Homo sapiens: one gene and its partner. The protein of the gene in region 1 interacts with the protein of each later gene in a pairwise test. Each region holds a gene or a part of one and is shown in the gene's direction. Other genes may lie near its edges.

What was found. The genes of interacting proteins can lie anywhere in the genome.
Region 2: the proteins of PRH1 (region 1) and TMCO5A interact in a two-hybrid assay, tested with the Homo sapiens proteins (one large-scale study listed by BioGRID).

The regions. Positions count from the first base shown.
Region 1 is NC_000012.12:10,881,350-10,885,890, reverse strand, and holds the start of PRH1 (salivary acidic proline-rich phosphoprotein 1/2 isoform a preproprotein), read left to right. Parts: upstream 1-1,635; 5' UTR 1,636-1,673; coding exon 1,674-1,737; intron 1,738-2,794; coding exon 2,795-2,830; intron 2,831-3,192; coding exon 3,193-3,656; 3' UTR 3,657-3,674; intron 3,675-4,541. UniProt on the Homo sapiens protein: PRP's act as highly potent inhibitors of crystal growth of calcium phosphates. They provide a protective and reparative environment for dental enamel which is important for the integrity of the teeth.
Region 2 is NC_000015.10:37,941,106-37,944,932, forward strand, and holds part of TMCO5A (transmembrane and coiled-coil domain-containing protein 5A), read left to right. Parts: intron 1-43; coding exon 44-100; intron 101-565; coding exon 566-625; intron 626-1,085; coding exon 1,086-1,150; exon of another isoform or gene 1,151-1,182; intron 1,183-2,235; coding exon 2,236-2,293; intron 2,294-3,827.

The DNA.
Region 1 (4,541 bases):
GACCCTCATATGCCCAGCACAGGATCCACTCATGCACACCTGTCTAGGGCCTTGTCTTTATGATTTTCTGTCACCTGGCTTCTCAGCCATGCCTCCAACCAAGCTATCCTCAAATAAAGACTAACCATGCACAAAAAGTGAAAAATTACACAAGACCTACTCAAGGTCTGAAATGGAAAGTGCAGCTGGTGATTCTGAGTAGTATATTTTATGAATTGATGAGCAGGGAATTTCTAGGTATCACAGAGCAATCAGCAGCTGAGGAGAGAGCGACAAAACCAGGACTCTGACAGGGCTTTTTGGAAACTTAATTTTTGGAGCAATCAGCAGCTGAGGAGAGAGCTACCAAACCAGGACCCTGACAGGGCTTTTTGGAAACTTAATTTTTTATTGTCAAATTATACAGACAAAAATGAAAGTAAAGGTAGTGAGGAGTACCACACACCTTTACTTAGAAGGATAAATAAAGGACACCTTTGTAGGGAGAAAAAAAAAGATATAGGACGAAAAGTAAACATGGCAAGGTAGACTCAGAATACAAAATTTCAACAAATAAGTGCGAGAAAAAGAATGAGAAAGAATGAGTATTGGAATATTACAGATAAAAATCCTTGGTGAGAAAGAACACTCTGATGAAACAGGTGACATAATTACTGAGTAAAAGCAGAAGACCAATCAAGGCAATTGAGGCTTGGACAGGTATTACAAATTATCTTAGATGAATGTATAATTGTGGCCATTTAATTATCAGTGATGACAATTACAATATTTATTAGAAGAAATAAAGTAGAGGATGAATTCTATGGAATATTCTGGAGAAAGTGGAGGTCTTAGCTATATGACATCGTGTGGCTCACTTAGGGAACCATATATTCAGTTTGTTCAGGTCTAGAAATTCCTTGGTGGTTTCTGAGTTCAGTTTTGCTTTAATAAACCCTAAAGATATTTTTAAAATACAAATATTTTAGCTTGCCTGTGTTGTATAGCACCAAGGCTTGCCTGAGTGTAGTGAGATTCACAGAAGTTTGGACAATTCTTGTAGCCTGAGCAGGCTGCCAGCACCTTTCTCTCATATATGTGTGCCTGGGAGTGTGCTGTCCTCACACATCTCACAGATAAGCAAGACCATCTCTGTTACATGAAAAATTTAGCTAAATGTGAAAATATCCACGCACACACATCATGAGAGATGGAAAGAGGCTATCAAAACAGTCAGAGATATTGACCATCTTCACTGTTAGCTGTAGGATCAGTGTCCACCCCCCGACACACCCACACAAACTCACATACACAGAAATGAAAAGCACAGTGAAAAGCAGAATAGCAGTCTTTCCAAACAGATTGAAAACCAAAAGATGTCTAAAGTTCAATCCTGACACTGTGCCGACTGCTTGGACACAGTTCCGTCAAAACATTTGTCCAAGTCATAGTTGTGCCTTTTAGGAATTAGACACAAACAATATCCTACCCAACCCTTCCTGCTGAGCTAGAGTCCCAAAAGAAATGAGGGATACACTTGACCTGAAGTAAGCAAAGCAGAAGCCAGTCTCTGAGGCGAGGAGGCCCACCTGGTAGGGAGCTCAAATGCACCATTGTCCTGCTTGTCTTTATAAAGGGAGCTGACACGTTTCTCCCAGCACAAAGTTGGGAGTGACACCAGAGCCTCCTGCAAGATGCTTCTGATTCTGCTGTCAGTGGCCCTGCTGGCCTTCAGCTCAGCTCAGGATTTAAATGAAGGTAAGATGAATTGGGGGAAGATATTGTGACTCTGATTGGGGTTTACAGGCAAATGCTATAGAGGAGGAAAGTGGAGGGAAGAGAGGAGGATGAGAAAACAGATGGGACTGCAGAGTTCTCATGCTGAGGATCAGAAGATCTATTGTACCTCCATTCCTCATCAAGGCCTCATAGTTTATTTGTTGCACAAATAGAATCCAATAAAGAATTCGTACTAGGGGTGTGAGAGAGTGAGATTTGCATTATATAGAGACATGGGACTGCTGTGAAGGATGTGGAGAATGCAAGACAGATTCAGGGAAGTACAGCTGTGAAGATCCTGTACTGATCCCAGTAGACAGGGATGATGGTGGCCTTGCTGTACAGTGGATGAGCATTAATGAAGGAGATAAACACATGTCAGAGCTACTGCCGAGGCAGAGAATTGGGTAAACACTTGTCTCTGTCTACATAGAGTTAGAGAATAACCAGAGTGAAACATTGTCATTTTTCTGTCTCCTGAATGTAGTATTTCAATGTGCTGGGAATGGCATGCGTAAGATTATATCCAAGTGGCTATGTCTGGTGGCTCCTGTTGAGAAGGCTTGCAAACATAAACAACATATTTACAGATGAAAGAGGGCAGAAGAATCCCCAAATATGTCATTGAAATACTCAGAGCAGTTTAACTAAATAAGCGCTAAGGGTTTACAGGCAAATGCTATAGAGGAGGAAAGTGGAGGGAAGAGAGGAGGATGAGAAAACAGATGGGACTGCAGAATTTTCATGCCGAGGATCAGAAGACCTATTGTATCTTCATTCCTCATCAAGGCTTGGGGAATCAAAAGAGGACAAACAGGGGCCCTTCTATGTTGAGTTCCTGGTTGACGCTCAGTGTAGTAACAATACTGCTTTCCCTTACATCTTCTTCCACTTCCAGTAGCATCAGAGAGTGGCTGATGAGATCACAAAGGGGATGCACAGGGTGTGATCAGAGGTCCTTTATCCTCGTAGAACACTATGAGCCTTGAATGATTCAGGAAGTAACTTTTCCCATCATCCTGTACTTCTTTTCTAGATGTCAGCCAGGAAGATGTTCCCCTCGTAATATCAGGTAAATCCCAATAAATTCTCAGTAAACTCTGTCTCCATTTTTCCCTGAAAAATTGATGAGTTCTCCAGTGTCTTCTTATCACCATTTTCTTGTCAGGAATTGGCTAATACCAATGCCCCAAAGATACAAACAGTTTTCTCCCAACCTTGATTCTGGGGACCATGAGTAAAGAAATTCAATTTTTCATCACCCTTATGTGGATTAAGAGGAGTTCTAATTAGGAAGCCTTGGGAAGGGGGGAGGTTGGGAGTTGAGAGGCAGGTCAGGCAGAGAGGGGCCGGCCGTGTGGTGAAGACAGAGAGGTATGAAGACAGGAGGGTTTTCCAGCATGAGCTCAGCTCTTCTTGTTTCAACTCACACAGATGGAGGAGACTCTGAGCAGTTCCTAGATGAGGAGCGTCAGGGACCACCTTTGGGAGGACAGCAATCTCAACCCTCTGCTGGTGATGGGAACCAGGATGATGGCCCTCAGCAGGGACCACCCCAACAAGGAGGCCAGCAGCAACAAGGTCCACCACCTCCTCAGGGAAAGCCACAAGGACCACCCCAACAAGGAGGCCAGCAGCAACAAGGTCCACCACCTCCTCAGGGAAAGCCACAAGGACCACCCCAACAGGGAGGCCATCCCCCTCCTCCTCAAGGAAGGCCACAAGGACCACCCCAACAGGGAGGCCATCCCCGTCCTCCTCGAGGAAGGCCACAAGGACCACCCCAACAGGGAGGCCATCAGCAAGGTCCTCCCCCACCTCCTCCTGGAAAGCCCCAGGGACCACCTCCCCAAGGGGGCCGCCCACAAGGACCTCCACAGGGGCAGTCTCCTCAGTAATCTAGGATTCAATGACAGGTACGATTCCAGTTTATTATCCATCAAAGGCTCCAACTGCTACAGTTCTCCAACTTCATTGTGCCAATGAATCCTCTGAAAACCTGTTAATATTGCCCTGTCCTGGAACACATTTCTAAAAATTGTTATTCAGATATTCTTGTATAGAGTATCAAGACCCTGTGACCCTGTGTTTTACAGAAGCTCTTGAAGGCAATTCTGATTTTGAGAATCACTATCTTCAAATTACATGTCTTAAGTAGGGTTGACAATGAGGACATAGAACCATGTTCCCCCTTTGGCTCTCTCTATTTTCTTTCCTCAAACTCAGACTCCCATTTAAAGTTTTCACCTGAACATGCTTTGCTCAGTCCTGCCTCACATCAGGCTTTCAGGTCCAGTATTCCTGCTAAGTGGTCCTTGAACTTTCAGTTGTAAAATGGTATCTCATTTTTAGTATACTTACATTTAAAGTCATACATGCTTAAGCTAACAAAAACTAATCTCACTGAACCGAAATGTACAGAGCTAAATAGTAAGAGCCTAACTCATCTTTCCTCCCTTCTATCCTTCTCAAAACCCCCACCTTTTACTCTTTGGAATCTACTTTTTGAAATATATATTGCTACATAAATATATATAATGCTTTTATTACAAGCACTTATACCATACTGTATATTCAGATTTGTGTCTTACTCACTGGAAAAATTTATTGTTTAGAAAACTTTCTCATGAGTTCATTTAGATCTCTTCAGTGTTTATTGGTTAGTTTGTTTTTACAATTGTATACTATTCTATTGTTTGGTTGTTCCGTAATCTATTTAACCAATCCCTGTCACTGGATATTAAGGCTGGATTCACATTCTCACTATTATATGATATGTTGCA
Region 2 (3,827 bases), on another chromosome or scaffold:
GCTTTTACCTTGCCAAGTTAGCAGTCTCTTTTGCTTTCTTTAGGTTAAGTTACAACAGCTGGAAGCTTCCTATGCATGCCAAGAGAAGGAGCTGCTCAAGGTAACAGCAGGAACTTCAATGTGACTTCTCCCCAAAAAGGGAAATGTGATCTTTGGTCAGGCAATCTATTTCTCAAGTGATTGATTTACATTAAGGTTCCAGATCCAAGACCATGATGGGGCTAGGGAGGGGTAAAGAAAAGGAAGATAAGCACAATCCCTGAGGTTGCTTTCTCTTCAAACATTTTTTTACAGAATACACTCTACAGTTTGTATCTCGCAAATATTAGTTATCTATCTATTCCTCTCCCAACTGCCCCCAAATTCCACCTTTGACCAATAACTCCCATTTAGCTTTTTTACCCTAAAAAAAGGAAATACATTTATCTGTACAGCAAAAAAGAAAACATATTTAGAACAATTAGAAAACCACATTTAGGACCTGGGACCCAAGAGAAAACAAGTATGCTTGTGTTCTTATAGCAATTTACCGAAATATATTTACAACTAAATTTTGATTTCCTAGGTAATGAAGGAGTATGCATTTGTGACCCAGCTCTGTGAAGATCAAGCCCTCTACATAAAGGTAGAGCTTCTTGGTAAAGGGATAGCAAAGGGTTTATTAAGGTACAGGATGAAATAGAACAAGGATTTTCAAAGACTACTGTCCAGAGCAATTTCAACAGTTCAAGGTGGCACTACTAGGATACTTTAAGGTCATCAGCACCCCACCTCACTATCAATATCACTCTATTTGTCTTTGTCTCCCTGGGAATTCCTGCCCTGCTCTCCCACTCTCTGTGCTGTTAAGTTAATAATTCACACTTCTGCTATTTATAATGTCAATGATGCCCAGAAACCTGTCCAGTGGTAAGGCATAGTGAGAGATCAAGAGTAGTAGGGGGGTGAGTTTTATGAAAGCAGAGAAAGTGGCAGTGGGAATACCAAGCATTCATGGTATCATGTAATAACAAGTGCTTATTATGCTTAGAAAAATTGTAAACCTTCTAAGTAGTAACTGTGGCTTTCTTTGTTTCTCTTTGAAGAAGTACCAGGAAACGTTGAAGAAAATAGAAGAAGAACTAGAGGCTCTGTTCCTTGAGAGAGAAGTGTGAGCTTTGGCAAAGGAACATCCTGGTTTTGGTAGAAACTCCATCTCAGCCTGAGTCAGAGCAAACAGTTCTCAGACCAATTTCTATTTGGAATTGAATGAGTCCCGACGCCACATATCTTTGCCCTCTGTTAGTGATCTGGTTGACCCCAGTAGATCACACCAACTTAAAACTTCCAGTCATTCTCCCATCCTTCTAAAAAGACCACAGAAACACATCTCCCTTCGTAATGTTATCACATTATCACATTATTATTCGGGTTGATATTAAGAGTAAAAACATGTACTTTAGAAAGAGTTGGTGGTCAGTCACCTTGATAAGTAGGGTATTCCTTATATATCACAGAAAGGCCTTTTCATTAATACCATCCTCACTTCCCCCAAATATATGGACACCCAACCATAAGGGATAGGCATGAAACTAATCTCTAGACTCATACTACAGCTACCACATTATATAAATCAGAACTGTACACTGTATTGAACTACGAACATTTAAAATTAGAGATGGGAAAGCACTCCTCAAAGTACAATGAGTTTGTCAAGAGTCTAAATGGTGAGAAATCCAAACCAAAAACCTCATCTCCATTTCTTGACCCCCTCTGTAAGTTAAATCTTAATGCAGTCAAGAAGTATTTCTATTTATGAAATATTTTTAAATCCTTAGATCAAGAACAAGAGATCAAAACTGCATATAGCCTCTCTCTATATATATATAGTCCAGGGTCCTAGGACTTGTAGGTCCTTGCCCCTAAAGGACACCTTCAAGTCACTCAAGATCCCTGCTGAACATTGGTTTATGGCTTAACTGTTAAGCCAAGATTCTAGAAAAGGTTGCCCAGTAGAATTTTCTGTGCTAGTTAGTAGGTAAAACTAACTACATATGGCAATTGAGTACATAAAAGATGTACTCAACTGAGGAAATTAATTTAACTTTAATTAATTTAAATAGCTATAGGTAGACAGTAGTTACAATATTGGACAGTACAGATTTAGAATATAAAGCTTTTTTAAAATAACCATAGTGTAGTATGAATATTTCAGTGCACTTTGTTCAATTTCTGTCCTGGCTGTTATCTTCATAGATCAAAACTCGTGAGCATGAACCCTGTGGAAAAAGAGCATACCAGCCAAAATAATGAGGTAAACACTCCATTCTCTCTTCAGCTCCTCACAGTGTCATTGCCTTTCAAAGCCATCTCCAGCAAACTATAAGGCACCAAATATATACCCAATCTTGCCATGCGCATTTTCCAAGAACAGTACCAGCTATAATTACAGAGCATTCCAACCCTAAACAAACAAACTAGACTCTAAGGAACAATCTACTTTCTTCTCATTCAGCCATACAAATAACAGGCTCTCAAAAAACTAGCCGAAGACCTAAGAGAACTCAGAATGGAGGCAAGAAGCAACCTTAATTGAGGGTATGCTCTATAGAAAGAGGCCAATATAGGGCACATACACCACCTCTTCCATCTCCTACAATCACAGTACTCTTTCCTGATGATCTTGACATGGTTCCTAATCTCTCACAACACAGAGCACCCACCATCTGTCATCATCTAGTCAGAATTGGCCTGTGAGTTAAAACATAGAACGCTATTGCTTCTTTGTGACAGAGTTTCAGTGTCTGTTCATATTTAATATAGCAAAGCCACCAGCACACATGTAAAGGTCTGAAGGAAAAGAACAATTTCATACAGAGCACCAATCCTCTTGGCCTGCTTGATGTCTTGTGGCAGCAAGGATAAAAGGTTAAAGTTAAACTTTGGTTGGGCTTTAATTTTGTAATTTATATTGGCTTTAGAGTCCAGGTTGACAAACATCAGAAATTACAGATAGTCAAGATAAATACTTAGAAAAGAGAACTAAACACTTCCTTAAAAGCAAATATCAAATATTGGCCATTGTGTTTGGGTCATCCAAATGTTTGGATATATGTTAGGCCATGTCCATGGTTCTTAAGAGTACTGAACAAGTCATTCTGGCCCCGAAGCTTGCATATTCTGCTTAGTAAACAAAATCCCTGAAATTAACTCGACCCACTTCTGTAGAACCAAGTTTTTGACATCTCCAATGTGTCCTACCATCTCTCCCCACAGCTCATCAAAATATTCCTTCTAACTATGTGTCAGAGGAAAAAATTAAAGTTGTCTACATCAAGCTCATCAGGGTCCCATGATGGTTCAATGACCTAGTGATGTCTGAGCAACTTTGGAGACAGGATGCCTGAGAACTGACTGTTTGGCAGGCCATGTAATCTTACTCAAACTATAGATCAAAATTTGTAATCCTAAAAGTTTCTTTCTAATTCAAATTCTGTAAGCCTCTTTTCCACAGCTCTAATTTTTTTTAGTAGAAAGATGAAGTCTCACTATGTTGTTCAGGCTGGTCTTTAACTCCTGGGCTCAAGGGTTCCTCCCACCTCAACCTCCCAAGTAGCTAGGACTACAGGCACCCACCACCATGCCTGGCTGGCTCTAAAATGTGATCATAATTCCTCTTTTTATCTCACAAGGAAGGTTAAAGGACAATGAAATAACTGAGAAAATATTTTGAAACCAGAATGCCACAGAAATACAGGACATAGCCTCATCTTTAGATTTTTTTTTCTTCAACTTTTAAGTTCAGGGGTACATGTGCAGGATGTGCAGGTTTGTTACATAGGTAAACG